Regions from separate parts of the Homo sapiens genome. Here regions 2 and 3 are each reported to be linked to region 1. Evidence: microRNA targets listed by miRTarBase, many of them from high-throughput screens and not tested one by one. Region 1 holds a microRNA gene; each other region holds the end of a gene's coding sequence.
Evidence for each region. Region 1 holds the annotated microRNA hsa-miR-4652-5p (AGGGGACUGGUUAAUAGAACUA, at 3,566-3,587, shown strand). A microRNA usually pairs through its seed, bases 2 to 8, with sites in the 3' UTR of a target mRNA and lowers its output. Matches are read on the target gene's strand: a 7mer-m8 pairs with bases 2 to 8, a 7mer-A1 pairs with bases 2 to 7 and ends in A, and an 8mer does both.

Region 2: miRTarBase lists WASF3 as a target of hsa-miR-4652-5p. Seed matches in the 3' UTR shown: 7mer-m8 at 5,414-5,420 and 7mer-m8 at 6,465-6,471.
Region 3: the mRNA of CYBRD1 is a reported target of hsa-miR-4652-5p. Seed matches in the 3' UTR shown: 8mer at 2,081-2,088.

What each region holds. Positions count from the first base shown.
Region 1 is chr7:93,713,372-93,724,558 of GRCh38, forward strand. MIR4652 (microRNA 4652) reads left to right here and starts at 3,557; the gene lies at 3,557-3,634.
Region 2 is chr13:26,682,009-26,693,195 of GRCh38, forward strand. WASF3 (WASP family member 3) reads left to right here. Exons shown (of 10, transcript NM_006646.6): 9 at 599-966; 10 at 3,680-6,940. The coding sequence ends at 3,837. LOC107984597 (a long non-coding RNA gene) reads right to left here. Exons shown (of 3, transcript XR_001749798.2): 2 at 1,508-1,575; 3 at 1-407. Among named protein-coding and RNA genes, the nearest start is that of GPR12, 73 kb to the right of the region's middle.
Region 3 is chr2:171,553,642-171,564,828 of GRCh38, forward strand. It overlaps CYBRD1 (cytochrome b reductase 1), which reads left to right. Exons shown (of 4, transcript NM_024843.4): 4 at 883-4,488. The coding sequence ends at 1,186. Among named protein-coding and RNA genes, the nearest start is that of CYBRD1, 37 kb to the left of the region's middle.

The sequences.
Region 1 (11,187 bases):
CTGAAGGCTGAGAGTGGGGAAGCTGTAGAAGAGAATTTTGAAGCTAGCAGATATTGGTTTATCATGTTAAAGGGTAAATAAAAAGTATCCATACCATAAGAGTGCCAGCTAAAGCAGCAAGTGCTGATGTAGAAGCTGTAACAAGTTATCTGGAAAATCTTGCGAAGATCATGGATAAATGTGGCTACACTAAACAATAGATATTCAATGTATACGAAACAGCTTTATATAGTATTGGAAGAAGATGCCAACTAGGAGTTTCATAGTTAAAAAGGAGTAGTCAATGCCTGCCTTCAAAGTTCTAAAGAACAAGCTGATTACCTTGTTAGAGGCTAATGCAACTGGCAACTTTTCGTTGAAGCCCATGCTCATTGATCATTCTAAAAATCCTAGGCTCTTAAGAATTGCACTAAATCTACTCTGCCTGTGCTCTATAAATGGAACAACAAAGCCCGGATGGCAGCACATCTATTTATAGCCTGATTTACTGAATATTTTTATCCCACTGTTGACACTTACTGCTCAGAAAAAAAGATTCCTTTCAAAAGGAATCTTCTCAAAATATTATTGCTCATTTACAAATGTCCCCAGTCAACCAAGAACTCTGATAGCAGTGTACAAGGAGATTATTGTTGTTTTCATGCCTGCTAACACAACGTCTGTTTTACAGCCTATGAATCAAGAAGTATTTTTTACTTTCAATTCTTATTAATTAAGTAATACATTGTGTAAGGCTGTAGCTGCCATAGACAGTGATTCCACCAATGGACCTGGGCAAAGTAAATTGAAACTCTTCAAGAAAGTATCACCATTCTAATGCCATTAAGAACATTCATAATTCATGAGAAGAAGCTGAAATATCAAAGTTAACAGGAATTTAGGAGAAGATTTCAACCCTCTTATATAACTTTGAGAGGCTCAAGGGTTCAATGGAGGAATCACTGAAGATATGGTGGAAACAGCAAGAGAACTAGAATTAGAAGTGGAGTCTGAAGATGTATCTAAATTGCTACAATTTCATGATAAAACTTCAGTGAATGATGAATTGCTTCATATGGATGAGCAAAGAAAGTATTTTTTTGAGATGGGATCTACTTCTGGTGAAAGATACTGAACATTGTTGAAATGAAAACAAATGATTTAAAATATTATGCAAACTTAGTTGATAAAGCAGCAGCAGGGTTTGAGAAGTTTGACTCCAGTTTGAAAGAAGTTCTACTGTGGGTAAAATGCTATCAAACAATATCACATGCCATAAAGAAATCTTTCATGAAAGGATGCATCAGTTGATGTAGCAAACTTCATTGCTGTCTTATTTTAAGAAATTTCCATAGCCATCAGAACCTTCAGCAATCACCAGCCTGATCAGTCCGCAGCCATCAACATTGAGGCAAGACCCTCCACCAGCCAAAAGATTATGAGTCACAGAAGGCTTAGATGATCATCAGCATTTTTTTAGCAGCAAAGTATTTTTAAATTAAAGTATATATTTTTTAGACATAATGCTATTTCACACTTAATAGACTAAAGTATAGTGTAAATATAACCTTTTTATGCACTTTGGAAACCAAAAACCTCATGAGACTTGCTTTATTGCAATATTCACTTTGTTGCATTTGTCTGGAACCAACCCACTAATACCTCTGAGGTATGCCTGTATTGTGTCTAATTTATTTTCTTATTACTTATCAAATTTTCCACAACAAGCATGCTTCTCCTTGCGTAATCAGAAAAGAAGTTATTACATTTTTTAGAAATGAAATCATTTAAATAATGAAAGAAGAATCACCCAATTTTATTTCAGAAATAAAACAGGAAGGGAAATTAAAGAGTAAAGGGAAAAGAAAAAATATTTTCTTGGGGTAAGGGTTGTAAGAGAAAAGGAAAGGTTTGTGCATATGTGAAAAAAGATTACTCAAAGTAGTATCAACCCAATTGTAGGTGTTAAGAGTTCAAAGATAGGAAGCTTTCTAGGGCATCAAAAACCCTCTAAAGATTTCGGAACTGCGGGAGGTAACATCTATCAAGAGAATTCGCCAGGGTGGCCGCCAGGGGTCTCCTGTGGACCAGGAAGCCTTGACCTAGGATAAGTCCATGGTTTATGAAGAGAGAAGGAGCCTGTCTTCATGGAAAGAGGGGAATGAAAAAGAAAGTCTTGTCCATATTTACGCGGCATAATCTTACATCCTAGAATCAATGAATGCTAGACCAGAAAGGAACTTGATGGATTTTCCAGCTTGGACCTCATTTTAAGATTAGGAAATTTAAACCCAGAGAGGTAGTGAGGACTAACCTGAAGTTACACAGCTGGTGAGACACACAGTTGGATAATACTACAGATATCATGGATGACTTTTATACCATCTTACACTGTTAAAAACTCAGAGACAATCAGTACATAGAATTGCCGCACTGCAACCACAAAGTGATTCAGGTGTTGAAAGTACTGATCTTTGGTATTATTTTCACATCATAGTAATGGCATATAATGTTTGGAAACATATTATATGCCTATTATAACTACTTCATATTATAATGTAGAACTTAGCTCAATTTTAATGTTCAAGAACTGTCAAATAAATGTCCATTATTCATTGTTTGACAGTTATGAATACTTTCTTTTCCCTTTCCTGGCTTAGACATCTTCAAGAATTAATCATTACACTCAGCTTTGTTGGTAGTGAAAAGAAAACAAGTGAAAATCTCAAAATATACCACTTTAAATATGCCATCCCTGTTAAATGTCCACATTTACACACCTGCATTGTGTGCAACTCTTTGGATTCTGTCCTCTGCCTGCATCGGGCTTCCTATATCCTTATCGCTTTCAGCCTCTCCTTTCTCCCATCTCAAAGATTTATCCGTACCTCCCTACTGGTGTCCCCTGGATCCTCATTGCCCAGCTTCCTCCTCCCTTGTCAGATGTAGCCTCTTTACTGTCATTCATTTGTACATCCATCCAATCCACAAATATTTCTTGAACTCCAGCTATATGCAAGCTCTTGTGCAAGAAGCTGTGGGATTACACAAAGCTGTGGGGTATTGTCAGAGATGCTTCTTCCCCACCTCCAATTCAACTTTACACCTCACAGGGTAAGCTGTAACAATTACAGATTGCTTTGCGGCCAGGTGCAGTGGCTCAGGCCTGTTGTAATCATAGCATTTGGGAGATCAAGGTGGGAATATCCCTTGAGCTCAGAACTTGATGACCAACCTGGGCAACATAGACTGTCTTTACTAAAAATTAGCTAGGTGTGATGGCACACATCTGTAATCCCAGCTACCCAGGAAGGAGGCTGAGGTGGGAGGATCGCTTGAGCCTGGACATCCAAGCCTCAGTGAGCCATGATCACACCACTGTACTCCTGGACAACTGAGAAAGACTCTCTCTCTCTCTCTCTATCTATCTATCTATATATGCATATATATAATATTATATATATAATACTTTAGATAACTAAGTTACATACTATATATATAACTATGCAAAAGTTGGTCAGACTGGAGTAGTGATGAGAGTGATAATGGCCAACAGTGATTCAGAATCGTTTGACTCTATTGGACGAGGGGACTGGTTAATAGAACTAACTAACCAGAACTATTTTGTTCTGTTAACCCATCCCCTCATCTAATAGAGTATAAACCTCAATATAAGCTCAACTAGGCTGAGTAAGGCCAAACAAGCAGTCCCCTAGTGTCAGACCAGAGAGAAAAAGTGATGAGAATTTTAAAAATCTTTGCAATCAATGTCAGTGGTGGTTGAGAAGACCTTCTGAAGGGAGACTATGTGATGAAGGATTACGAAGTGAAAGAAATGGTCAGCATATTGTTTCCATTGAAAAGACAGAAAATCTTAAATCCAAGGTCATGTTCCTGGCCTTGCTACTGACCTGTAGGCAACAACTCACTGAGTTTCAGACAGCAAGTCTCTCTTCTAACAAACAGCTGACAACACCTCCTCTTAAGTATTACCCAACCTCTGGCCCCAAAGCACTCCTCAGTCCTCCAGTGCTACAATAAGTCATAATGATTACTCAAATGAAATAGAGATCTTTATGAATGAATAAGTTGCGGTGGTATGAGTTTTGAAACCACATCCCAAACCACATAGTAGAGAACAACAAAATCAGGTCAACCCAGGTGCACTAAAGAGAACTTGCAAAGCCCTTAAACCTAGGAAAAGGAGGGAAGGAGAGGAGGAGAACAGGGAATAAGGGAGGAAGGGAATGAGGAGAGAGAGGAATGAAAGAAGGAAGGAACAAAGAAAGGGAGGGAGGGAACCAAAAGAAAGAGAAAGAAAAAGAAGGAAGAAATGGGGAGAAATGGGGAGAGAGAGAAAGAAAGAGAAAGAAAAGGAGGAAGGAAGGATGGAAGGAAGGAAAAGAAGGGAAGGAGGGAGGGAGGAAGGGAGGGGGGAATAGAGAGAGAGGGAGAGAGAGGAAGGGAGTGAGGGAAAGATGGAGAGAGGGAGGAAGGGAGGGAGGAAAGTTGAAAGCTTGTAGTATTTGCTGATTTTCATGGTGTATTTCCATCATATCCAATTTGTTGAATATGGAGTTCAGAAATGCTACCTGCAATTGCCTCTTGAGAGCAGGTTTGAGCTGGTGCCCACACCACTGTCTATCACTTTAGCCCTGTGAGTAACTGTCACTCATCTGTAAAATGGTGATAGCAATTTTGGCGTTGCCATTTCAAAAGACAACTGAGGAATTATTTGCCAGGGAAAAATATTTTTGATAACTAAGTTACATACCTTATAACAAAATTATAGCTGAATTAAATATTAGAGACTGAAAAAAATTAAGATAAATTATTCATGAATGTTACATAGTTTTTCAGCAAAATAACTTCCTATGAGTGATAACAAGAAAGCTATAAAGGAAAAGATTGAGGTATTGTATGGAATGAAAAGAAATTCTACTTTATGGCAAAAATATTATAAGCAGAGTTAAGGTTCATAGATACTTCTGCAGAAATTAAGAAAATAACATTAATGATTTTATACTATAATATTCCTCATGATTTCTGCTTTCTTTTGTATGCATGGTTATTATGTAATTCATACAATACAGTTTGAGGTCAGCAGACATTATAATCATCAGATGTCAAACTGCACAATCTGAGTCTCAGAGCTGAGTTGCCCAGCTTCTAAGTGTTATTTTTAGGGAAAATAGGAAATAATTGCTATTTCTGGATTAATCACTATGTCTAGGCTTGCAGTGATAAAAACAGAGGATAAACTGAGCCAATTTCTTTTGTTACTCAATTTGAATATCACTGAGGAATCCTAATAACTTGGAAGAGGGTCCATGCTAAATAAGAATTACGCGGGTGATGAAATCTGTGTGCTGGCAAGGAGTCACTAATCATTACCAAGCATTTACTGTCATCACTTTGGTTCTTTCTTTAATTTTCTGATGTTGAATTATTGTCTTAAATAATCGAATTGAATCATCCAGTGAAGGTATGGAAAAGATTTATCATTATGACATAGTAGTGCTATGTTTCCAATGGGTGTGACATTTCAATATTTGCTTTATTCAGTAATTTTTTTTACTATGTACAAATGTACAGGGATATTTAATTAATCGATGTGATAGAATGACATATTTCCCACAAATTACCGTAAGCAAGCAAGCAAGGAAAACAAACTCACAAATTATTTCCTAAATTGGGATAATATAATTAAAATTAACTTTACAATATAATATATTTCCTCACTAGAACAAAAACATAACAAAATTTAAAAACTCTTCGAGCATAATAAAGGACTTAAAAATACACATTTAAAAAAAAATTTAAGTAACTATCAGAAGGAAAGAAAGAAAATAATAATCTGCCACCAGGAGACTGCAACATTTCAGTGACTTTTTCCACCTCTCCTTCCTCCAAAACTAAAGATTATCTTCTCCCTTCTCAGCAACAGGCGTTTGAGAAAGGAGAATTCTAAAAATGAGGCTAGGAAGCAAGTCTAGCTTAGAAAAGGAGAGGAGGTGGGGGAAATTTTGGTGAATGGAAGAGTTAAGAGGAGTGAGGCAATAAGGATGACTAGATATGGGGAGAAAGTAATAGAGTGTGGGGTTGGAGTACGTATCCTGGCAGGCAAAGGAACTACCACATGGATATATGATGGTTAAAGCCATGAGGCTTCGTGCTAGTGGATGATGAGCATTGATGAGTTATCCCAATTGGGGTTCCAAAATTAACAGTGCACACTCCTTCTCCTTTTCCTCTCTTCATTTTTTACATGAATCTGATTACTCCTTCCTCAGGGTTCTATGTGTGAGAGAGACAAGTCTTTTCCCACTCCTATCCACTGACTCATCTCCAACTGCAGACCAGTAACAATGATAAGAAGACCATAAAACTGTGTGGGCATCACATGACCAGCTTACACAGTAAGCCTGACCACTCTGACCATTTTCTCCTTAGCAAGGATGTGGTTATGTTTTAACCCCAGTGTGTTTAGCTTAGCACCTAGAATTGGGAAGCTGCCATCTCTTTGGTTTCATGAAATTCTATTAGCATTTGGGCTCACTTGACCTTTCCTAAAATAATCAGGCTCCAAGCGTTGTGCTATTTCATTTGAGAAGCTAGAAACTGTAAGCAGGGAAAGAACTTCCAGTTCTATAGGGAAGCAGAAACTGTAGGTGTAACTCAGCCCAGTGTGTTTCTCTGTGTTTGTGTAACTTTAGCACTTGGCTTTGATTAAAGACGTTTTGGAAAGCAATCTTGTGAGGTGTTGGAAAGGACCTTTCTCTGCTAAGGTTTTGGGGTTTTGCATGTGGAATGGCTTTTCTGGAATTTTCCATCAAAAAAGATTACCTTGTTGAAAAAGATGATCACTACTTTCCTTCATTTTTATTGCCAGTTGTGTGGATGTAGCTATTCTTAGGTATTCTTATTTGTGTTCTAGGAATGAATGTTCATTCAACAGCTGAGGATAATGTCATCTACTGGAGAAGCAGCTGTTTCTCACCAAGCATATTGCAGACAATATTATTGCTCTAAACAATGCATAAATCAAAAGGGCTACAGAATATTTCTGGAGAGAAACCCAGAGTGCAAAGAAGTTTAACACCTTTTTAAAGGCCACAGACCTTGGTATTCATTCTGGGAAGTGAGGATTTGAGTTTTTCCTTTCAGACATTCTTTGTAAACACGCTCTTTTCACCCTAAGCAAACATCTTTCTTTTACCAGTAGCATATGTCTGACTTCTGGTTTATTCAGAAACACAAAGACTGTAACGTAATACTATTTGTTTATGAAATTTGAACGAATAACCCAGTCTCTGCTTTTTAGTGAAACCAACATAGATTATCATGTCATCTGCCAACAATTAGAGTTTATCTGTTTGCAATATGTATAACTAATATTATTTTTACATTATTGAGCTAGGTGGGACTTCCACTATAATGCTGAATATGAGCAGTGAGAAAGGACATTCATGCCTTGTGGTCTGATTTTAAAGATAAAGCATTCAGTCTCTTGGCCTTAAGTATGATAGTAGCTATTGGTTTTCCATATATACTCTTTGTTAGGTATGTAGGTAAGGTAAAATTGCACTTCACTCCAAGTTTTTTTTAATCATGAATGAGTTTTGAAGCTTATCGAATAATTTCTTTTGTTTATTGATATAATAATATAGTGTTTATTTTTCAGTCCATTGAGATGATAAATTACATTGATCTATTTATAAATGTTGAACTAGCCTTGTATTCCTAGGATGAACCCCATTTTGCTGTGAGGTATTATCCTGTTTGTATATTACAGGATTTTATTTCAAATATTTTGTTAAGGATCTTTGCTTCTATGTTCATGAGTGATATTGGTCTTTAGTTTTCTTTTGTTGTAATGTTTTAGTCTGGTTTTGATATTAGGATAACTCTGACCTAATAAAATTGAGTGGCAAAGATTCTTTTTTTTTTTTTGTATTTTTGAAAGAGGTTGTGTAGAATTGGTATTATGTTGTCCTTTAATGTCTGGAAGAATCTACCAGTGAAACCACCTGGGCCTGGTGCTTTTTTTTTTAAGTTATTAACTAATAATTTAATTGGGTTATCTATTTCTCCATGAGTGAATTTTGGTAGTATGCAGTTTTCAATTTTGAATTTATAGTTATGGCGTTGTTCTTAATATTCTTACTATCATTTTAATGTCTGCATCCATTATTATTTATATTGTTAACTTTTTTCTTTGTCTCCCTTTTTTCACCCTTAATTACCCTAGCTAGAAATACATCAGTTTTTAAAAAGTAACCAGCTTTTGGTTTCATTGATTTTCTTTATCGTTTTTAATGTCATGAATTTTATATACTTAATTAATTTTAATTGAAAAAATTGTATATACTTATGCACAATATGTTTGGAAGTATGTATACATTGTGGAATGGCTAAATAGTGCTAATTATAATTAACACATGCATTACCTCACATACTTATTTTTTGGGGGGTGAGAACACCTAAAATCTACTCTGCTACTAATTTTCAAGAATATAATACATTGTGATTAACTATAATCATCAAATTATACAATAAATCTCTTGAACTTATTTCCCCTATCTACTCAGAAGTAGAAAGTAGAATTGTGGTTATAAGGGACTGGACTGTGGGTGGTTGGGGAGATGTTATGAACAAGGGTTAAAAACCTATTGAATACTATGCTCATTACCTGGGTGATAGGATCAATCATACCCCAAACGTCAGCATCACACAATATACCCAGGTAACAAACCTGTACATGTACCCCGTGAATCTAAAAGAAAAGTTGAAATTATTTAAAAAAAGAAAAGAAAAATGATCTCAGTCATACTAGCAACAAAAATTACTAGCATTACCAGAAATAAACCTAATAAAAACTACAATTTGGTTATATAAGAAATTATAAAACTTTTTGTTGAAGAAGATAAAAGAAGACATGATTAAAAAGAAATATATATTATATTTGTGGAAGGGAAACACAACATCTAAAACGTGGCAATTCTCAGACTGATACATATATTCAATGCAATTTCAATCCAGACATATTTATTCAAGGTATTTGTTTGCTTTATATTCAGACAACCTTCCTATTCATTATGCTAGGTGTCTTTCTATAATTTGAAATACTAAACAAGCAAGCTTTTTTTTTTTTAAGAGAAATAGAGAGAGGGTCTTGCTATGTTGCCTAGGTTGGAATGCCGTGGCTATTTAAGGTTGTGATTATAGTGCACTGGAGCCTTGAATTCCTGGGCTCAAGTGATCCCTCTGCCTCAGCTGCAACTACAGGTGTGTGCCACCATGGTAGGCTAATTTTTAAAGTCATTAATTTAAGTATGTAATCAAAATAAATTTAAATAACATCGTTTCTCAAGTGTGAAGTTGGGGCCTTTTTTTTTTATCTAGTATCTCTAGAAACAATAGTTTTCCCATCTACATCTTTCTTCCTACTTGTCTCGTATAGTTATTTTACAAAAAAAAAAAAATTCAATTCACCTTCCTTCTGTTCTGCTCTCCTAAAATGCTAGAATAAAAATAGATCCTCAAGCCAGTCTCTTCATCTCCTTCCTACTGACACCCAGTCCACACTTCCTCATGCTGTTTCATTATTAAAATCCATGGAAAGTATTAATATCTTCCTACTGTATATTAAGGGGGAGGCAAGAATATTTGATGCATTCCCTCATTTATTTCTCATGAATCTCCGTTAAGCAGGCACTAACACCTTATTTCTATTTCTGGTGTTAACAATTTTTATCTGAATCTCAGAGAGTTCCTTTCAATTCCTAAAGTCACACAGAGGGTGAGGCGGCAGAGCCAGGCCTTGAAATAACATGTTTATCTCCAAACTCTTTTCTTCTTCATATTTCTATATCTTGCAAGTAGGGTAAAAATCTTGTCTTTTGGAGTCTAGGCTACCTGACTTCCAAGTTCGAGATTACTTTGTACCAGAGAAAACCTAGGCTTATTTTTCAAACTGAGTTTCAAGTTCCCCTTCTATGAAAAGAGGCTAACACTGATTAATACAGGGTTTTAGGAGAATTCAGTGCAATCAGTTAAGTTAGCATCTAGTCAGGAATGAATGTTTGCTTGCTTGTTTCCTTCCCTGAGAACAATATCTAGGAGTCCTTCAGCTGTCTGATAGAAACACTATACCCTGCAGGAGGACAAATCTACTCCACTGCCTGGTGATATAGGGGATCCTTGTTATCTACCTTCCCATTCTTGCAGGAGCTTTGACTTCCTGCTAGCATCTGGCATAGAAGATGGCTTGGCTTGCCCCACTCAGCCAGAGCGTGGGCAGCCACTAAGACACATGCAGTGTTTTGGGGCTCTGAAGAAATGCAAAGATATTTTAAAAATCAGTTCCTGTGCCAGACCTCTGAAATGTTGGTCTTCCCTGTGCCTATCCCCAATGGGTATAAAAGTGCCCTTGCCTACACATGTCTTTCTTCCTCAAGGATGCTTATAGCATATACTTCATGAGAGGTTTTGTTCTGAAGGTATCAGTGTTGCTAGTTCCTTCTTCAGAGTCTGCTCTCTCGTGTGTGAGTGCAGTTCAGTGAACAGCAGCACCTCTGGAGGGGTCCTCCTATCACAAAGAGCAGAGAGACAGAGAGGAGGCCAGCACTCTGGAGGGCTCCCTGCCAATACCAAGTTGCCTTCCAAGGCTTTAGGGAGGTAATTAAGGTTAAAGAGGTCATAAGGATGAAGCCCTCGTCCAGTAGGACTGGTGTCTTCTAAGTAGTGGAATACATGTCAGGGCTTGCTGTCTCCCCTTCAAGGGTACAGAGGGAAGGCTGCACGAAGAGAGAGAGAGAAGACAGCCATCTGTATGTCAGGAAAACAAGCCTCACCAGAAAACAAATTTGTGTTTTTTAAGCCACCCAGCCTGTGGTACTTTTTGTGTGTGGCAGTCCTAGCTGAGTAATACAGGGATATATGGGAATCATCTGTGTTGTCTACCTAGATTTTTTGTAAACTTACAACTCCTCTAAAAATAGTCTATTATAATTTTTTACATTGAAAAAAAAAGTACAGGAAAGGAAAATTCTTTAAGTAGGCAAAACATCAAGCAGAACACTTGCTTGTTCACACTGTACAGAAGAAGAAATTTTCATAGGTGTGATTCTGTATCAGTCTCAGGATATGGTTTGGAAGAAACAAGATTTGAAAACTTAAGTCAGAGATAGATAGATAGATAGATAG
Region 2 (11,187 bases), not on the chromosome of region 1:
CTGGCCATGCATGCCAAGTCAGGATCCCCAGAGTGGCTTGAGGCTGTGTCAGGCCAAGAGAGGGCCCATGGTCCAGTTAGTTTGGAAGACCCTCGGCTGAATAGAATTCAGCAGATTTCTTGGCTGTGTGACTTTTCGAAGCTTTTGATACACACCTGGGCACTGCAGGCATGGGGCATTTCCACGGAGGTGGGTTAGAGAATGTAGAAAGCTCCCAATCTGGTTGACCTTAGGACCCTTAAAAGACAAGTTTGTGAGCTACCGCCTTGAGATCCCAGTGTGAAGCCTTCACTGGCGCTGCCGTCCTGGCCTCTGCAGTCAGCTGCTTTATTCTGCCTTTCTTCAGGAAGTGCTGCACTTTTTGAGTGGTCCTCCTTTTGGCACATTTCAGTAGCAGATCTTGACTTCTGTCATAATGAATAATGTCAAACTGTGAAAATAACTGACCCAAGGTGTGCATGTTTGCATCCTGCCATGATTGAAGTTCAGGTGACAATACGTGTTGTGTCTGGGGATGGCTCCGTTAGGTGTCTAAGAGCTCCCAGGACGTGACCCTCTCTTGTTCCCTTGGTGACTATGTGCCTCATATCTCTCTCAGGATGCTCCCAGCGCAGATAATTGAGTATTACAACCCATCCGGACCACCTCCTCCGCCACCTCCTCCTGTGATTCCCTCAGCACAAACTGCCTTCGTCAGCCCTCTCCAGATGCCCATGCAGCCCCCGTTCCCTGCATCAGCCAGCTCCACGCACGCAGCTCCTCCTCACCCACCCTCCACCGGGCTCCTGGTCACAGCCCCGCCACCCCCGGGCCCACCACCTCCCCCGCCAGGCCCTCCTGGTCCCGGGTCTTCTCTTTCGTCCTCCCCAATGCATGGCCCCCCAGTAGCTGAGGCGAAGCGGCAAGAGCCTGCACAGCCACCAATCAGTGATGCTCGAAGCGACCTCCTCGCTGCTATTCGAATGGGTAAGTGGAGCCCCCAGACACACAGCCTGCCTTTCAGCAAGAGGTTTCTTCATGTCTCCAGCCAGCTACAGCCTCCTTGTCTTCAAATGACTACTCACTACGTTTTTTAAAATAGAGTTAAAGGGGTCTTACTTGATTTTTTTGTTTTGTTTTGAATAGTAGTTGTGTTTTTGTCCAGTGTAAGGTAATCAAATTGTGATAAAGATTGGGAAACAGCCGGGCGCGGTGGGCTCATGCCTGTAATCCCAGCACTTTGGGAGGCCAAGGCAGTTGGATTGCTTGAGCCCAGGAGTTTGAGAGCAGCCTGGGCAACATGGCAAAACTCTATCCCTACAAAAAATGCAAAAAAAAATTAGCTGAGCATGTTGGCCTGAGCCTGTAGTCCCAGCTACTCAGGAGGCTGAGGTGGGAGGATTGCTTGAGTGTGGGAGGTCAAGGCTGCAGTGAGCCGTGGTCACGCCCCTGCACTCCAGCCTAGGCGACAGAGCGAGACCCGTCTCAAAAAAAAAAAAAGAATTGAAATTAGGAAGTTTTTACTTACCTTGAAACCAGAAACCCAATAACTGAAGTGATCGATTAATTAATTGGATCTCTTCTCTGCATTCTGCTCTAAGGGGAAAAGTATAAATGAAAGAAAGTGAGCTCATATTAATGATTTCTTTAAAAAAAAAAAAGAGTTTGTGCTGGACTTGTCATATTTGCTTGATGTCCTAAGCCAGTGGTTTTTCAGAATCTATAATATTCAACAGCATAACCCTTTTGTCAGATGAAAGTCCCGCGTTGACCCCCTGACCACAAAACACATGGAAACAGAGCATCTCAGGTGGAATTGGGTGGGGAGTCTGCCCTCGCCTGTCTTGGGCTGCCCAGAGAGCCCCTGGGAACCTCCAGCCCACACCATGGATTCTTAACCAGGTCCCAACCCAGGTTGGTCGAGGGTCCCTGACATGTTATGGGAATATCCAAGAGCTTCTCGCCTGTGGGGAGCTGCACAGACTTGGTCACAGTTTAGTCATCTCATCTGGAAGTGACCAAGCAAGGAGCCTGGCTGCAGCCCGCCAGCTCAGCATCAGGGATGTCCTTCAGAGGAGCTGTGATGCTGCTGCCTCTGCGTTTTTCTTGTGTGCCCATGAACCAGGCCCACAGTGTGGCCCACGCACCCTTCTAAAGACCCCAGGGTCCTCTGTGTACCTGGACATCATTGACACACTTTTATTTTGTCAAGATAAAAAAGTCCTAGAGGTATATTAGCTCATGAATATCAAGTTCGGGGTCATTGTAGGACGGTGTTGGATTTGCCTTTTTTTTTTTTAACACCTTATAAGCCCTGTCTACCAAGAGTAGATACATAATCTGTATCTAATCTCGAGGAAACATCTGATACACCCAAATCGACAGACATTCTGCAAAATAGCTTCCTATATTCTTCAAAAACGAGAAGGTTGTAAAACACAAAGACTGTGAAGAACTATCCAGATTAAAGGACATTAACAAAATTGACAACCAATGTCACGGATAATTTCCACTGGATTCTGAACCAGGGGATAATCTTTTCCATTTGCAATTAGATTGGGTCTTTTTGCAAAATTTGAATAATATTTGTAGGATAGATAGTAGTAGTGTATCCAAACTAATTTTGTGATTTTGATATTTTGGGTGGGCGAGGCGGGGGCGGTAACACATGAACTATTTTAGGGGTAAAGGGACATTATATGCCATTCACTCTCAAATGGTCCAGAGAAAAGTGTCTGTGTCTGTCTGTGTAAAGATGATAGGGGAAGATTGGGAAATAAATGTGGTCAGATGTTAGCAGTTGGGGAATCCAAGTATATGGGAATGTTTTTCTGCTGGTCTCATAGCTGTTCTGTAAATCTGAAATTATTTCAAAACAGTTAAAAAATGAATGGATACCATCTTGGGCAACATTGCAAGACTCTATCTCTACAAAAAAGAAAATACAAAATTTAACCGTGCATGGTGGCGTGCGCCGGTGGTTCCAGCTACTCAGGAGGCTGAGGTGGGAGGATTGCTTGAGCCCAGGAGGTCGAGGCTGCAGTGAGCCATGATCGTAACACTGCACTCCAGCCTGGGTCACAGAGTGAGACCCAATCTCAAAAAAAAAAAAAAAAATGGATAAACATTAAATCATCAAATATCTTACTTTGTTACTAAGCTAGAAAGTAGATGATTGTATTTTATGTTTGTTTCCACAGTAATTGTTGAAATAAAGGTTTCTCAGTTACTTCTTGGGTTAGCTGAGAGTGAGTAGCATAGAACACTGTTTCCAAGGCTCTGGATGCTGTTGCTGCCTAGTAGATGTCCTGTGGTGATAGAAATGCTCCAGCCTGCAGCGTCCCAGAGAGTAGCCACTAGCCACATGTCAGTTCATGCTTTTAAGGCTATATGTGCCTAGTGGCTGCTGTCTGGGATGGTGCAGCTCCACAGTTTTCTCTAATGGTGTTCAGGTACACTGAAATTAGGAATTTTTAATATTTTAACACATTACTTTGTTACAAAAAAACTTCTCACTTTGAATGCATGTTTTTTCTCATGAAACTTTTAATATTCCCTGAGCTTTTCTCCCCTCAAATTTCTAAAACTTTCTGTCCTTAGTGTCAGTAGAAAAAAAAGTCCAATAGACATATTTGTTCGTTTATCTTTAATTTGGAGCCAGCAAAAGGATGTGATTCTGAACCACGTGTTGTGTCTGCAGGAATTCAACTGAAAAAGGTGCAGGAGCAGCGGGAGCAGGAGGCCAAGCGGGAGCCAGTGGGGAATGACGTGGCCACGATCCTGTCCCGGCGCATTGCCGTGGAGTACAGCGACTCTGACGACGACTCAGAGTTCGACGAGAACGACTGGTCCGACTGAGCAAAGGCCGGCGGAGAGGCCGCGTGTGGGAGCGTGTTGAAGATTTTAAGTGGTCTCTACACCCAAATAGTGGTATTCTAATCCCGTAGCATAGCACCTTTTGTATAAACAATGTGATATTGCTTCTGCACATCCAAAAATTCTGGGTCTTTTCAGTATTTACTGTGTAATACTTAAGTGCCACTAAACATAGCAAATTGTGCTGCACATGAGGAAATAGGCTGTCACTATCACATTGTCCTGAAAACAGCATCTGCTTTCCTCTTGGCCATGAGAGTATTTAGTGCAGTTTGGGTTTACTCTTACTGATCAATATAACTCTGCAGACTTGCTGTGTGTTTGTGAAGCTGCCTGGTGTTAGGTCTCTGCAAGACTAATGACTATGTCAGAGTGATGTCTTCCAACCAGTAAGTGATATTGTTTCACCGCTTTGGTTTTTCCTTTTGTTTTTTTAAAGGATGTGTTTCTGAATAAGTTGGTTTTAGAGGGAAAGGTTCAACAAACAGGGAGAATCCAGTGTTTCTGCTTTCAGTTTCTTGGCTTGGTAGCCTCTGAGTGAATCTGATGCTCTGCTGAATAATTTCATTACCTCTGCACATGCCTGTCAAATATGAAATTGGAAGGGCCCTTTTCAGGCTGGGTTCCCTGTGGGCATTTGCTTAGTAAATGCCTGTTGATGGTTTTTGCAAGAGAATTCAGCAGCTCAACAGTAATGAAAGTGAAGAACAGAGTCCATTTTCCTTCCTGGGGCCATTGGGGATGACACTCAAGATACTTGCCAGTCTCTCCAGTGTGGGCACCAGCCGGCCAGAACAGATGCGAGCAGTCCATGACTCTGGGAGCTACACCGCTGAGCTGGGCAGAGCTGCGGCACAGGGCCTGGGCTGCAAAGGAGCCCTGCTCCTTTAGTTTCCTGACACCTGTGTCCTGAGTGAGCCGCAGGAGTTCTTAGCTCCTCAGCGAGCAACAGAGAGCACTTTAGATGGCACCTTTCACCACTTGGTCAGAATTTTAAAAGCTTAGGTTTAGGTGAAAGTAGATATTGACAGCTATTCACCTTTCACGGTGCTGGGGCCAGATTAGGGATCACTCCCGTGAGGAGGGCCTTCACCCTGTTCTAGAAGCACATGGTTGTCCTCCTGTTGTTGGCACATTAAATGATAAAAAGCACCTCATGAGATTCCCTTGATCAGCCCTGCAGCTGTAGTACAGTGCTGTGCCCTCACCTCCACCCTTCCTGTTGTTCCCACGTGGGCAATACCAGGGACCCATGGGGAAACTCAAGAATGACAGCTTCTATATTTTGTAATTCTGGATGAAAGATAACTGTGTTGAACAAACAGGTGCTCCAGGCTTTGATTATAGATACGACTTCAAAAATATGCTAAGACGCTTGACTTATTAAGGACTTTAACCTACTCAACAGTATTTCATATCCATTGTGGTTAGTTACTCAGTTATGTTGAGAAGAATCTGGAGCTAAAAGCAGAGATGTTTGAGGTGACGGTAGGAATGTGAGCAGGATGGTGATGGGGGTTTTTGTTAAAATGCATCTGAGCAAGTCAGCCAGCCCCGAAGTCCCCTCAGTGTGTGTGTCTCGAGTGGCTACCTGTTGGGCTTGTGGGCAGTGATTGTACAGAGCCTGTCCATTGGGTGCAGTCATGTAGATCTGAAGCCCTGAAAAGCCTCATGTCTGCATCCCCTTTCCAAGGCTGCTTCCCTGGTGTGTCTGTTCTCTCCTCTGTCCCAGGTGCTGGGAGCGTCCTCTTCAGCGTCTTTTCCTAGAGCTGGTCACCACTAGGCTGTCACTATAAATTCCTTGAATATAAGTAACAGTTATTAATGAACTTCTAAATTTCTAATTTCTCTCTCTCTCTCTTTTTTTTTTTTTTGTTGTTGTTAAAAAGGGCCTACTACATTGGCGCTATTCTTAGGACTTCTGCAACTTTTAAAGTCTTACTTGTCTTTCTTGTTGCTTTTGTATTAGGAGTTCCCCGTGTGGGTCTAGAACTCCCCTTTGGTAATGCTTCTTTGTTTTTTTATGGCCCTTCTGTTCTCAGGATGGAGAGAACACAGAAGCTACTATCCATGTCAGGATTTATTCTATTTATATCTTATTACAATAAAATTAGTGGCACTTTATTCATAAATATTCATGAGCCTGTTAATTGTTAGTTGTCTTCCTGTAGCTGAATCAACAAGTTATTTTCAACTCAATTTTATGACTTGCGAAAAAGCTTTTGCCCTGTTGTGTACCATAACATTTAAAAGAATGGAAAATGACTGAAATCCAATTTAGATTATTTTTAGAGTATTTTTCCAGCAAATTCAATTTATTCTGAAATTTAAATCCAGATCTTTTCTAATATGGTATTACAATGAAAAGAATAAAGAGAAGATTTGAATTTTCAGTTTCATTTTCAAAAACTATTTACCAAAACAAATGGAGAAGAAACATCCAAAAGCACATTTCATTTCTCCAAACTTTGTGTTTTAAATTATAGTTATAAATTGTAAGGTAATTTTAAATTGTCCCTCGTATTATTTCTCCACGTCTGTTTTAGTTTAATGTCTCCTAAGCTTTTCTCTCATAGCGTAGACCTAGGGAAGGGATGGGAAGATTGCCCAGTCCCCGATGGCTGCGCACACAGGAGGCGGCGGAGCACAAGGCAAGTGAGTTTGCACTGTCAGCCCCAGACCGTAAGCTTGGCTACACTGATGTTTTTCTTTACTAAGGATACTATTCAAAAATTAACATTTTCATCTCAGTAAGTTTTTAGAACATCAAAATGTTTTCTGAGCTCCAAGTGGCTAGGTTGTAAAAGTTTTATAATAATTTGCAATTAAAATACATGATACATATTAATCCATTAAAGACTAGTGGGAATGTATCAGCCAGAGTAGCAAGTAATTTTTGTTTTATAAATCATAGTATCTGTCATCTTGCAGTATTACCAATGCTGTTGTAAATTGAATTTAAAGTGGTATTAAAAAAAACTGTTAAACAATTTTTATCTGTTTGTATATCTTACTATAGATTATGTACAAGTAACATCTAAATAAAATTACACTTTTAACCCTAAGAGGTTTTGCTTATTAATAACAGTGTTGTATGTTTGGCTTTTTTGGAAGAGAACTTGGTGTTAAGTGGTTTTTTGTTTTTGCTTTTGTTTAGCATTTTCCTTATTAGACAACAGAAGACACTACTTTGGTTTCCATTTAAATTTCTACATAATTTTTGTGTCACCAAGAGTTCAGATTGAATTCCTGAATGACTCGGGGCAGCACTAGTCTGGTTAGAAAGAAAAGGCCATGCTGGGAGTAGGGCAGCCACCTGTTGAGAGGATAGAGCCTGGGGCAAGAGGGTCTTAACCACATTTACTCTCAACGGTAAAAGTGAATAACACGCTGTAGTATGTATGTATTGCTTATGAGATGTTTTCATTTAATCCTTACAATAATCCTTAACATTCTGTTTCATATGTGGGAAAACTAGAGTGAAGCTAAGTTACTCTCTCAGGGACCTTGGTCGATAGAAAACTCAGTTCTGGGGCAGAATCACATGTTGGGGTAATGAGAGTCGAGATTGGGTGGGTAAGTGTGGCCACATACTTCAGAGACAGCCAGACTGGAGGTCAGGCTTCCTGTAGAAGCTGCTTTCAAGTTCCTGATGCACACGGTGTGTACCTCTACCATGGCACGCATCATGTGGTATGATGGCTGGTTCTGTGTGTAGCCTTTCACTGGACTGTGTGCTCCTTGTAGATGTAAGTCATCTTTGCATCCTGAGAGCCTTGGCACAGCACCCAGTCTCCTAGACAATGAGCAGCTGCTTTTTGCATGATTAGATGAGTGGATGGATTCCTGAGTGGTTTTCTTTAGCAAAAAGTAAAGTGTGAGCAACTTTTTTAAACATGGCAAATTCTACCAAATACCTTGACCTTGCATTTCCTCCTTAGTACTTGTCATCTGATGTGTGGCTCCCTCTTTATGGTGTGTATTCCCCACCAGACTGAGCTCTGGGAGGCAGGAAGGGGCCTGTTCTGCTGTATCCTGTGTGTTGAGCACAGTGCCTGGCACTTTCTAGGTTTCAAATAGTTATTTAGGGATTGTTGTTCATAGGGAAAAAGGGGAGGCTTCTTCAACAACTGTTTGTGAGCCTAATAAGATTTTTAAATACATGGATATGTGTAAAACACTTGGAAGAGTGCCTGGTGCTAAGCAGACACCCAGTGGTTGTGACCCACCTCTTTCGTCTACAAGCCACTGGCTGAAAAAGAGTGGCAGGCTGGGCCCTGCCCTCATGGGGCTGCTCATCTAATGAGAAAAAAGGACATTAAATATTGTCGAATAAGTAATTTAGATCATTTGACATGTGCTGAAGTTTGGGGCAGAATGAGAAGTGCCCAATCTCAGTGGGCCAAGAGAAGCTGAGATTTGAGAATGAACAGAAGTTAGCTCAGGGAAGGGAAAGGAGTTTTTCAGTAGAGAGAACAGCCTGTGCATTCCCTAAGATGGGAAAGACAATATGGGGTGAGAATGGAACTAAAGTATTGTGGAATGGAAGCACTGAGAGGAAGAAGTGTCATGAGATGGGATACAAAGATGCTGGAAACCTCCCATGCCCAGCATTCGGGATTTAGGGAGCTTTCTGAACCAACAAACCCCACCATGATGACATGTCTGCCATAGCTGCACACCTATCAAAATATTCATATTTACAGCCTATTGGTTTTTTAATTGATCTTGATAGCCTCATGCCTTAGATGGCACTAATCTTAGAAAGGATCTTAGGTCCGTTTTATTTATATGTATTTAGAAGGCATCTTAGTGCTCTGCTAGTCTAGCTCCTACCTTTAAAGATGGGGAAAAGGCCATTGCTTCCATTGATGGGGGCTCAAAGCTTGGTCTCTTGACTCTTGAATTTTCAAGAGTTCAAGGTCCTCCTGTTCCACCTTTCAGAGTTAGGTAAATATCCCTCACCCTCTGTTTCATTATGAAAAAAATTAAAATCTACAATAAAGTTGTTCAGTAAACACTCATATACCCCTCTCCATCTGTTCATCAATTCTTATCTTTTATGCATTTCAAAGTAATGTGTATTCTTCACCCCGAATTCTTCAGCATACATATCATTAGAGTTTAATATTTATAATGTAAAATACACTTAGAGTAGGTTCACTGACTCTATTCTGTCATCTGTTATATAATTTGCTCTTAAGCCCATCTAGTAAATTTTTTATTTCAGACATTGGATTTTTTCACTCTAGAATGTCCTAATGGTTCTTTTTTGTTGTTCATTTATTATAAGCTTATTTTCCTTTACATCTTTGAGCATAGTTATACTGGCTCTTTAAAAATCTTTGCTAATTCCAACATCTGGATTTTTTTTTTTTCAGGATCAGTCGCTATTGAGTGTTTTCACTCTTGAGTGCATGCCTAATAGTTTTGGATTGTATTGTAAACTCGGTGAATGATACATTTTAGAGACTCTCGATTCTGTTATGTTCCTCCAAAAAGTACTGATTTTTTTTTTTTTTAAAGAAGACAGTTAACATGGCTAGAATTAAACTCTCAATTCCTCCCTGCCCCCATCACCCAGCACACACACAATAGACAATAGCAGAAATTTCTTAAGTTCTTTTAACCTTAGCCAGGCTGTTTGGAGTTTATTTGGCTCACGCTTGGTTACAGAATCAAACAGAGACTCAGGCAGTTTTACACAGAATTTTTGGATCCCCCTCTGGCTCTTGTTTGTAGGAACACTTCACTTTCAATCTTCTTTGATCGCTCTGAACTCAGCCCTCTCATTTTTTTAAGCCAATAAGATGGTGGGTTAAGTCAGCCAGCCAAGACTGCAGATTTTCTGTTCAGGCTTAGCTGCCTGCTTGGCAGAACAGGGCCTGCCCTCACCAAAATGCCTTTAATAATCAGAAATGCAAAGCCTTTTTCTTCTGCCAAGCGTCAGCTCCCCTCTCATGTGTTTCTGGTTTTGATTTCTGTGCAATGCCTTCGATGGCTGTGAGGTGTATTTTGTCCAGTTCATAATTGTTATCTGTAGTGATTTGGTCTGAAATGAGCTAGTTCTCCAGTCCCAGAAGCCTCATTCTATAAATACTTGATGCAACATTTATTTTTAAAAATGTTAATGTAAATTTAAAAATGCAAACTGATGTTTAATACCCAATTACAACAAATGATCAGTGTCTCCATTTTTCTGCCAAGCAAACTTGTGTTTGCAAGGACCCCACAATAAAACTGGTGACATAGTTCTTTAACAAAGTGGTATCCAAGTATTGCATGATGTGATAGGAAACATGTGTCTACGTCTTATCTGTGAATCAGAATGTTCTTTAAGGCCGGATGCTGTGGCATGCCTGTAATCCCAGCACGTTGGGAGGCTGAGGTGGGTGGATCACTTGAGGTCAGGAGTTCGAAACCAGCCTGGCCAACATGGTGAAACCCCGTCTCTACTAAAAATACAAAAATTAGCCATGCATGGTGGTGTGCGCCTGTAATCCCAGCTACTCAGGAGGCTGAGGCAGGAGAATTGCTTGAACCTGGAAGGCGGAGGTTGCAGTGAGCACGGATTGCACCATTGCGCTCCAGCCTGGGCGACAGAGAGAGACTATGTCTCAAAAAAAAAAAAACAAAAAACAAAAAAAACCCAAACCCAGAATGTTCTTTAAACCGTGCAAGCAGAACAGTATGTGAGTCACATGGGCATTAAGACTACTTTAACAAATCGTCAGCCTTACCCCCAGTCTCCATTTTTATGTTCATCAAATAACTTTAATATTTTCACTGAGTTTTATAAATTTAGATTCAGGAATAAATCTATACACATAAAATATTTACTTTTAATTATTGGGGTTCATTTGAATCAAGGGTTCCACTACCTAAAACTTTGTAACCACTGCCTAGCATCACCAGTATGTAAGGGTTCACGTTGTTATGGGACTGTGTACTGTACTCAGATTTTGTGTTCTGTGAAGACAGTCCCAATACAGAGCTGTGTCACAAGCTTTTGAGGACATGGATATTTAATTTGGAGGTGTGGGTAACTTGTAGAGGTGTCCCAACAGGGAACTAGATGAGAAGGAGATTTGCTTCCCGAGTATACTTTCTTCCCGGGCCTGGCACCTGGACATTGATTTGCCAAAACACGTGAGCACTGTCCTGTGGATATCTGTACGTGCGATCTTTTAATTGCCCCACTGCATTTGCCCTGTGTACTTGTGATGTGAGTAATTAGCTTTAAATACAGCACCATGATTAGTTAGAGGTGGTGAATTGGCCGATGATTTACCATGAAGAAAAATTAAGAAAATATGCCATTTAAGAGTAATT
Region 3 (11,187 bases), not on the chromosome of region 1:
ATAGGTAATATGATATTACTAAAAGTTTAGAAGGACCAAAAAGTCTGACAAATTGTATTACTCTTATGAAACAACTATTGAAGTTATACATTCCCTTTCAATCTTGTTGATATGCATGTTTTTATATTAATTGTAATTATAGTGTACATACATTTTTGTTTCATCCTTTTTAAAAATTTTAAGTGATAACTGTTACTGGTGGAGGGTGTCCAGGTTCTTGGCGTTTTGAACAAAGAAGTGGACAAAACACACAAACAAAGCAAGTAAAGAATGAAGCAACAAAAGCAGAGAGTTACTGAAAATGAAAGTACACTCCACAGGGCGGGAGTGGCCTGAGCAGCCACTCAACGGCCCGATAGGGAATCTTCTTGGGTCCAAATAGCCCCTAGAGGTTTCCCATTGGCCAGTTGGTGTTCACTGCATGTAAATGAAGTGGTGGCCTGCAGTCAGTTTGATTGGTTGTAGAAAGCAACCAATCAGAGATACTTTCAATTTTCCATCCGCCATGCAGAAAAGCGGGGTTTGCAAAGGGAGTAGCCTCGGGTCCTTTTGCTACTTAGATGTGGAAAGTTGGGGTTTTCCTTTTGGTTTAGTTCTAGGAAGTCCGTGTGAATTGACCTGAGGTTGCCTGCCTCCAGACCCTACCTGCCTTAAAACAAGTGTTACAGATGCTATATTATTTTCATATTTATTATTTTTAAATCAATTTCATTATATATTCCCGAGTGAATTGTAGCATAATTTATATTTCTCCTTAATAGCAAGCTTTGAGAGTTTACATTGAAACTGTACTAGTGTGCATTTTGAGCAGATAAATTCAAGACTGTTTTGCATGTTGCTGTATCATCCTGTTTGTAATTGGATACATCTCTTATTTCATAGGAGAGATCCTGCATACAGTACATTCCCGCCAGAAGGTGTTTTCGTAAATACGCTTGGCCTTCTGATCCTGGTGTTCGGGGCCCTCATTTTTTGGATAGTCACCAGACCGCAATGGAAACGTCCTAAGGAGCCAAATTCTACCATTCTTCATCCAAATGGAGGCACTGAACAGGGAGCAAGAGGTTCCATGCCAGCCTACTCTGGCAACAACATGGACAAATCAGATTCAGAGTTAAACAGTGAAGTAGCAGCAAGGAAAAGAAACTTAGCTCTGGATGAGGCTGGGCAGAGATCTACCATGTAAAATGTTGTAGAGATAGAGCCATATAACGTCACGTTTCAAAACTAGCTCTACAGTTTTGCTTCTCCTATTAGCCATATGATAATTGGGCTATGTAGTATCAATATTTACTTTAATCACAAAGGATGGTTTCTTGAAATAATTTGTATTGATTGAGGCCTATGAACTGACCTGAATTGGAAAGGATGTGATTAATATAAATAATAGCAGATATAAATTGTGGTTATGTTACCTTTATCTTGTTGAGGACCACAACATTAGCACGGTGCCTTGTGCAGAATAGATACTCAATATGTGAATATGTGTCTACTAGTAGTTAATTGGATAAACTGGCAGCATCCCTGGCCTGTTGTCATGCAGTCATTTCCTGTTAATTCTGGGAGACAATGATTTCACAACTAGCGGGAAGCAGTCCTAAAAGTTTAAAATCCGATAAGGAATATCTGGGACAGGGTTTAGATCATGACTCTACACAGATACCATGATGAGAGTATATTAAAGAAATTTAGGAAAGCACCTGGTTCCTTTCTCCCCATGCCTGCCTTCTGCTCCCTCCCCAGCTGGTTTGGGCTCAAATTGTCCCTGGAGACTAGGGTTTATGTTAGGGTATTGATAGATTAGAGCAGGTGGTTGAAGAGATCTTCTCTGGTCAGACTTGGAAGAATTTCCAAAACTGAAGTTAGCCCCAAGACTTCCCTAGGGTTGATGTACTTTATGATCCAGATGCTAAACTTCTTAGAATGAAAATATGCTTCAACACTTAAGTAGCATACACTGCCCTACAAACCTCAGAGAGCACTTTTCCCCAAGTTCTTGTTTTTATTTTTGAAAGTACTCACACAGCACTTACTATGCTCCAAACACTCCTCTAAGCACTTTACACATATTAGCTCATTCAGTCCCCAGACAGACGGGATGAAGTAGGTATTGTTACTGTTCCCATTTTACAGGTGAGAGATTTGAAGCCTGGGGAGGCTAGTAACTCACCCCAAGGTCACACGGCTCATACATGGTGGGACTGAGACTCAGATGCAGGCAGTCTGGCACCTCAGTCTGGATTCTAACCATTTCACTAAGCTATTTTTGTCTTGTACTACTTTGACCCACCCCTGAATAAACCTCAATTGCTGGAGTGGGGTGTAGTTATTAAAGGGATGCTTTTTACCTTTTGCTGTTTGCTGTGGCAGATTCCCCAGATAACCAAGGAAAAGGGGCCACCCATACCTGGAAATAGGCCATAGGGCCCCTACTACTGCCAACAAGCCATGGCCTACCTTGACACTTGTTTGATCTTAAAATTGTGTCTTGGTAACAAAAGATTTGGACAGGCATATCTGTAGCTTTCAAGTTAATTAATTGCAATATTTTTTTCTTCAGGATTTTAGCTGCTGAACAACTTTCAGTTTGGAGCTAAAAGAGACCTGTCTCATGGTCTGCCCTTCCCTGGGGCAATAGCTAGGGTCTTTCCTGATTTTTATGGAATTTTAGGGGATATTTTGAGCTTTGGGTTCTCAGTAGTGAATTGAGACTTGGAGGTGACTTTTCATGTTTGGAGTATCATCTCTGTCTGGGATCTGGGCTGACAAATTAAAACCTAGAGTAGTGCTTATGCTGAAATGATACTTTTCATTTTTTGGTTGATTTTTTTGCCTTCCCTTCAATTTTAAACTGAAGCATTTTAATATGGGTAGAAACTCTACACCAAATACACTAAACATTTTGGTGCTTAGTGGATTTCTTTTTAGGTAACTGGTACTTACTTCCAAAGACTGAATACAAGCCACACTCCATCATATCCCTTAAACTTCATGAAAAACCATTCAAGATCCCCTTGCTGCAACACTGTTCTCTTCTTCTCTACTAAATTCTATTTCCAAAATTGGTAATAGAGCCAGAAGGATCCCCAGTACCCAGCCCTCTGCCTGGCACAAAGTGGTAGCACAATTAAATTCAGTATGGGTGGAGCATGGTACAGTCTTGGTGCCATAGAAGGAGTAGTTGCATAGTCACACATCATTTGATAAGTTGGATGTTCCATTACATAGAGGAACACAAAATTCCAGGGTTTTTGGAGGAAGGGATTAGATAGTGACTAAGCCGCCAGAATTGAGGTGGCCATTCCTTTTTGTATAGGCTAAGAAACAGGTTATCAGTGAAAAGTTAATTATGGCTTTGGCACTAGAATAGCACTGTTGCAAAGTATTTAAGCACCCCCCATCTCAGCCCTTTATTTTATCTTTCATGTGGGCTAATGTGAGGATAATCTTACAGATATTATAGGAATTTCTTTTCTATCTTTATGAAAACAACGTATATAAAATATATCTAGAAAACCTTTGTTTGAGACTCTTATTTAATGGGCTTTTGATTCTAATGATAATTGTACCTTTATCTTTCAAAAGCTGATATTTCCTACCTAAGCATCTCCCGAGAAAAATATCTCATTAAAAAGCCCATAAATAATAGGGGAGAAGAAAGCCTTAGGTATCAATTCCAAAACAGTGATTGAAATTTCCCAAAATAATTATGGCTTCTGTCATCTCCAGAGATAATCTGGCTTGGTTTACCCCATAATCTAATTTCAGAAAAGAAAGCTTTATTTTAACACTCATCTGAATCAACATTAAAGCCTTTTCTCTCAAAGCGTTTATTGAGAAACTCAAATGAATATACTTTTTGAATTACTGTCATCAAAAGTGTACGGCTTCCTGTGCTGCTTGTGTCAAATGGAACCTGCCCTCTAAAGCACTTTCTTTCCTTTACTTGCGTGGTTTCATGTAAGCTGTGCTGTTTAGAAACAACATCTCAGACTTTACAAAGAAATGACAAAGAAGGCAATTGCACTTTTTAAGGGATATCGACAAGCAGTTTCTGTTTTCTAAAGGACAAAATACAGAGTGTGTGTCATTTTTAATTAGATTCTTTCCCCTGCTGAGTTGGAAATTCCAGTGCAGCACTGATTGACCACAGTTGCCAATCTAAAAGCACAAAGACAGAAGTAAAGCTTTATGCTAATTTTATTTCAATATGATAGAAAATTTATCTTGGTATGTCCTTTTTTAGATAACTCCAGCAGGAAACTGTAACTGCTATGTCTTTAGGAAAATGTAGAAGAAAGAACATTATTGTTCTTTAATTCCTACAAGGTACTCGAAAACCTTAAGTGAAAAAGATTTCTATCTTTTTATCTTAGCGCATTTATGGAAAAAATATTAACTATCCTGAATATTTTATAATTTTGTAGGAAAAATATGCATCTATTTTTTCTTGACTTCTTTTATATAGTAATAAAAGTTATTTTGGAAGCTCTTTGTGTGTTATCAATTTGTCTGGGGTAGCAGGGGTAGGCATTGTTGTGAAAGTTTCTTTGCCATGGTTTTTGGTTTGTTTATTTTTCAGCAGAGATAGTCTTTTTTCAGTTTCTTGATTATGTTAACTGAAAAGCCAGACTCTGTAATGTATAATACATATTTTATAATATTTACTATTAATATTATATATTTATATATAATATTTACTATAAATATCATATATTTATATATAATATTTACTATAAATATCATATATTTATATATAATATTTACTATTAATATCATATATTTATATATAATATTTACTATTAATATTATATATTTATATATAATATTTACTATTATTATATATTTATATATAATATTTAATATTTTATATATATAAAATTTTTCGCAGTAAAGAGTTTAATTAATGCAAAGCAGCCAAGCAGAAGGACTGGAGTTATCACTCAAATCAGTCTTCCTGAGGGCTCAGAGGTTAGGGTTTTTCAATGATAGTTTGGTGGGCAGGGGCAAGGGAATGGATGCTGCTGATTGGTTGGGAATGCAATCATAGGTGTGTAGAAAACAATCCTCATGCACTGAGTCCCCCTCTGGAGGAGGGCCACAGGACCAATTAAGTCATGAGTCACAAGTCCAGATGGGGTCAGCTCTTCACTACCTGACCAATCTTAGGTTCTACAATAGTGATGTTATCTATAGGAGCAACTGGGGAAGTCACAAATTTTGTGACCTCTGGCCACTTGACTCCTGAGCAGTAAGAGATTAGAGAAACTGATGCAGGTCAGGGGAGCCCCAACGTGGAGCTTAGCCCATGTAGGTTTTTGGCTTTGCCCAGGAAAGAATTCAAGAGCAAGCCAGAGGTGGAAGAAAACAGCTTTACTGAAGAGGCAGTGTTACAGCACCATGACTGCTCCTGTAGAGCAGTGCTACCCCCTAGGCAGAGAGTAGCCTGTAAAATATTTTAAAGAGGTTTATTCTGAGCCAATACAAGTGTCAATGACCTGGGGAACACAGTCTCAAGAGGTCCTGAGAAAGTGTGCCCCAGCAGTCGGAATTACAGTTTGCTTTTAGATATTTTAGGGAAGCAGGAGTTATAGGGAAAGGCATAAATCAATGCATGGAAGGTATGCAGTGGTTTGCCCCAAAAAGGTGGGATAACTTGAAACAGAAGCTTAGTTTATAGGTGGATTCAGAGACTCTTTAATATGCAATTGGTTAAAGGAATAGAGCTCTGTCTAAAAATTTGGAGTTGGCCGGGTGCAATGTCTCATGCCTGTAATCCTAGCACTTTGGGAGGCTGAGGTGTGAAGATCACTTAAGCCCAGGAGTTTAAGACCAGCCTGGGCAACAAAGTGAAACCGCATCTCTAAAAAAACAAAATTAAGAAGTTATCTAGGTGTGGTGGCATGTGCCTGTAGTTCCAGCTACTCAGGAGGCTAGGGTGGGAGGATCACTTAAGTCCAGGAAGTCAAGGCTGCAGTGAGCCATGATCATGCTACTGCACTCCAGCCTAAGTGACAGAGCAAGACTCTGTCTCAAAAAATAAAAATAAAAATAAAAAAATAAAAAAAAATTTGGGAGTCAACAGAAAGGAATATTTATGGAATAGCAAATTATTCTACGTAGTGGTTCTCTGCTAGGTTTAAGACAAATTTCTGCCCTGTAATAGCTACAATAAGGTCATGAGGATCTGGTAAAACATACTCAAATATCCTACCCAACTTTCTACACCTTGCTGAATTCAGCATCTCCTCTAAAACTCAGATTTTAGAGCTTTTCAGCTCCTGCTTCATCTCCTTTGCCCCTGCTCCCACCACGCCTCAGTCTGGGTGGAATGTTTCTCCTCACAGCATTCAAAGAACTTGGTTCCTGCCTCTAGCCCATCTTTTTTTTTTTTTCAGTTGCAAGATTTAATAGAGTGAAAACAGAGCTTCCATAAAATGGGAGGGGACCCAAAGGGGGTTGCCGTTGCCGGCTCGAATGCCTGGGTTTATGTCCCAATCATTGTCCCTTCCCCTGTGCTCTCACGTGATAGATGATTGGCTATTTCTTTACCTCCTGTTTTAGCCTAATTAGCATTTTAGTGAGCTCTCTTTACTACCTGACTGGTCTGGTGTGAGCTAAGTTGCAAGCCCCGTGCTTAAAGGTGGATGCAGTCACCTTCCCAGCTAGGCTTAGGGATTCTTAGTCAGCCTAGGAAATCCAGCTAGTCCTATCTCTTAGTACCACCTCTCAACAGGAAAACCCAAGTGCTGTTGGGGAGGTTGGCCAAAGACCGCTCTAACTGCTTCCTGCTGAATTGGGACGTAGTAGGGGTCGTGCAATTGAGATTTCCTCGGGAGGCGTGCCTTCGATGTCATTAACATCAGAGCATGGGCTAGCAGGCCGGTCCAGGGGTCCACGGTAGATCTTAGTCATGGACTGCTTCTGGGGCTCCATTTGAAGAACGATTTGTAGTTTTACAGCTTCGATTCTGGAAGAGACAAACTTAACAAGGAGGTTAAAGATACAGGGATTGAAATGTATGGCCTGCAGTGCAGGAGATTATTTCTTTGGCACACTTCACAGGCCCTGACTATCTGCTTGATAGTTTTGAAAAGGCCTGGTCCCATAAATAATGATTTGGCCATCTGATGGGTGCTATCAATGGCTAAGTGAAAGGTTTGGTGAAGGGTTTTAAGTAATTTCCATTGGTTAGCTGCAGGCAAAAGTATTTTCCCTTCTTTGGTGGCTAGCCATCCTGAGGGGAGGAAACTATGTCCCCGTGAGGTTCCCCATTCTATTTCTCCTGCTGAGTACAGAGGGGATTACCCCACACTAGGGGTCCTTCTACAAGCATTTCTAATGGAGGGTCCCACCTTGTGGCTCTTTTGGCTTCAATATCCACTTGGCAGTTCCCTTCCGATGACCCCGACAGTGTAAGACTGCCACCTCTTTAGGTTTCTGTACAGCTAATAATAATCTCCTAATGGCTTCCTGATGTTTGATAGGTGTTCCCTCGGAAGTTAGGAATTCCCTTTCTCTCCATATTGCTGTGTGGGCATGGAGGACTAGGTAAGCATACTTAGAGTCTGTATATATATTTACCCTTTTTCCTTTTTACCCTTTTTCCTTCTTCTAATTCTGGTGCCCAAGTGAGGGCTATTAGTTCTGCCAGCTGAGCGCTAGTTCCTGGAGTGAGGGGATTACTTTCAAGTATTCCATTATCACTGACCACTGCATACCCCGCTTTTCGAAGTCCTTTTTCTACAAAGGAACTTCCATCAGTATACAAGTTGAGGCCAGGATCAGTCAAGGGAATCTCTAGAAGGTCCCCTCGAGTGGTGAAGGTTTGAGCAATTACTTGTTGACAGTTATGTTCTATTTTTTTCTTCATTGCCTGGAAGAAATGTGGCTGGATTAAGAGTTGCACAAGTGTGCAGTCGCAGCACTGGTCCCTCAAGTAATAGAGCCTGATGTTTAAGCAAATGGTTGTCTGACAGCCACAAGTCTCCACACAGTGAGATCTCTTCCCTGTATCATTTTAACTGCTTCAGATACTAAGACTGCTACTGCTGCCACTACCAGTAAAAAATGAGGCCAACCCGTTGTCACTGCATCAGTTTCCTTACTCAAGTATGCCATGGGTTGCAAGCTGGTCCCTCGGACCTGTGTAAGGACTCCTAGAGCTATTCCTGTTTTTTTCTGTTGCATATAAGGAAAAGTCTTGCCCTGTTGGCAAGCTTAACACTGGGGCTTGGTTAGGGCCTTTAGGGCCTGGAAAACCACTTCTGCTTCAGGTGTCCATCTTACTAAATGGGTATTGGCTTTCTGAGTTTTCTTAATTAGTGTATATAATGACCTGGCTATTTCGCCGTACCTGGGAATCCATATTCGGCAGAAGCCTGTTATGCCAAGGAACCCTGTTAGTTGCTTTAGTGTTTTGGAATGAGGATAAGCCGGTATAGGCTGGATACATTTCTCACCAAGGGCAAAACTTCTGGTGAGTGTACTCTTTCTGCAGGAAGTAAAAATGGCCTTACTAAATAAATTAAATTTATGTTCAAGTACTATTTCTTTACAGCACCTGGGAACAAGCATTTCAAACAACTCCTTACCATTTATTCCCCGGGTCCACATCTCTTCTTAAAGGAATGTGGACTTTCTTCCATGATTATCGGCTGTATGAAGAACTGTCTTGGAACCAAGAGAATACATCTTCATAGGATGCAGGCTTCAGGGAGCTAGAATAGAGGAGTGGGGAGCACAAACTGAAAAGGGTTCCCCTCACTCACTACAGAGGCACAACCCGTAAGGCCAGCCATTCTAAGGACAGGCCAATTTGGGTGGGTGAGGATGCTCGATACGGGAGCGGTCCAGGAGCACATGTCTGCCGACCTTTGTTCATGTCAGAGGTAGCCCACAGGGCAGTGCTCATTTATATCACCAATCCATAAGAATACATTTTTGTTTTGTCAAAAAGACAATGTCTATAGAATTATCTGAAACCTGTTTTTTCAGATCTGACTAGAGTGAGTTAGCTATGATCACTTTCCTTCTGGTAGCCACTCAAGGGGCGTGATAGGCGAGTGAGGTTTATAGAGTGAAAGGAAGACGGCTCATGCAGGATTTGGCTGGTGAGTGTTCTATTAGGGTGAGAATTTTGGAAGGAGAAGCTTTCTGATTGACTTTCAAATACAGTTGGCAATCTGGTTGGTATAATATCTACTGGTACATAACTAGGAAATTTCTAGGCTGAGTGGAATAGTATGAGTTTTTCTGTTTCAACGGGAAGAATATCTGGTTGTCAGCCTCAGGGTCAGAACTGTACATAAGCAATCCCTTAGTTTGGTGAATGTTATGGCAGAAATTTAGTCTGAAGTCTAGTCCAAATAAATGTTTTCTATATTCTCATATCTATTTATATGAATCTTATCACATTAAGGCTAGACTGAGACATGTCACAAATTTCTCTCTTGTGGAATGAAGGTGAAAAAGAGAAATATAAGCATTGGGTGAATGTTGAAATGGATAAGTTCTGAGATTCCTCTTAAAGTTTAGATTCTGATGAGATTTCCTGAACAGGTGCCTCTCTTGTGGCTCAGGTACCAGAGGGACTCTGTAGAACTCCAGGGGGCCAGGCCCTAGCTCAGCCCTGGCACACACAGGCAGGCCCTAGAGTAGCCACTAGTGATGAAGGAGGAGGGCAGGAAGCATCCTTGCCCTCCCCAACCCACGACCTGGCTCCCTGTCTCTATCAGCGCTCACATTCCCCATTCAAACCTCTAGGTCTTGAGCAGATTGTAGGAGGTTCTGGCCCAGTGAACTCACCTGGAACACTCAAATGAAGGAAGTAAAAGGGTGTGAGGCAAGAGGAGCAGTGACAGCCTTAAGTGTGAGCTAATTCACCCCAAGAGCAAGCAAAAGTGCAAATAAAACTCAAGGGTGTGGAAAAGTGTGGAGTGATGATTAGGATTCAGGCCTCTCCTTGCCTAGCCTTCCTCCATTCTCTCTCTCTCAACCTCTCACTCTCTCTCTCTCTCTCTCTGTCTCTGTCTCATTTAACAGAGCACTGGATTGCGAATGGAGTGCAAGTAGAGACTGAGAATCACCACTGTAGTGATTGTATCTGTGTGGCAAATCATCTTAAAGATTTCTTGTATTTGGAAACAATGTCTAATAAAGAATGGCCAAATACAAAGTTACACTATACAAAAACTATGTCATCAAAAATTATATTGTTCAAGTGAATAATTAGCAATATGAAAATATGTTCATAAAATATTAAGTGAAAGAAATTGAATATAAAAGAGTTTGTAAATGTGAATGTGCATACACTTTCAAATAACTGGAGGCATAATATACCAAATAGTTAATTAGTTAATAATGGTTATCTTTGGCCTGGTGTGGTGGCTCATGCCTGTCATCCCAGCACTTTGGGAGGCCACGGTGGGTGGATCACCTAAGGTCAGAGACCAGCCTGGCCAACATGGTGAAACCCTGTCTCTACTAAAAGTACAAAGGAAAAAAAAAAAGACAGATGTGGTGGTGCGGGCCTGTAATCCCAGCTACTTGGGAGGCTGAGGCAGGAGAATCACTTGAACCTGGGAGGCAGAGCTTGCAGTGAGCCGAGATCGCACCACTGCACTCCACCCTGGGTGACAGAGCAAGACTCTGTCTCAAAAAATAAAGTAAAATAAAATAAAATAATGTTAAAAAATGGTTATCTTTGAGACATGGTAGGATAATGGGCATTTTTCATTTTCTTCTTTTTGTTTTCTCTGTATTTTCTATAATTAAGTATCACTTTTGTACTAAGAAAAACATGTATTATCGGAATCCCGTCTGCCTCATTGACATCATCCAAATGTTTGCTTAGTCTAATTTATCAAGAAATTGAAGATAATATATTTATAATTGAAATAAATGTTTTCCTAACACCAGGAAAGAGGAACTAAAGCATTTGCCAAGATCCTAACTTGGTCAGATACCGGAATGGCCTGAGGGACTATTTGCTTTGCAGCATTGTTAATCTCCAGATCGCAGAGACATAAACATTTACAAGTCTTCCGAAGGTCATGCAATCACTGGAAGCTGGGCAGTATATACTTGTAAGAACTGGACAAAACAGAAAAATCTGGATTCTTGTAGGAACTCTATCATGGTCCACGGGTGTAATCTTGGGCAAGCCGCTTAATCTCTCCATCTGCT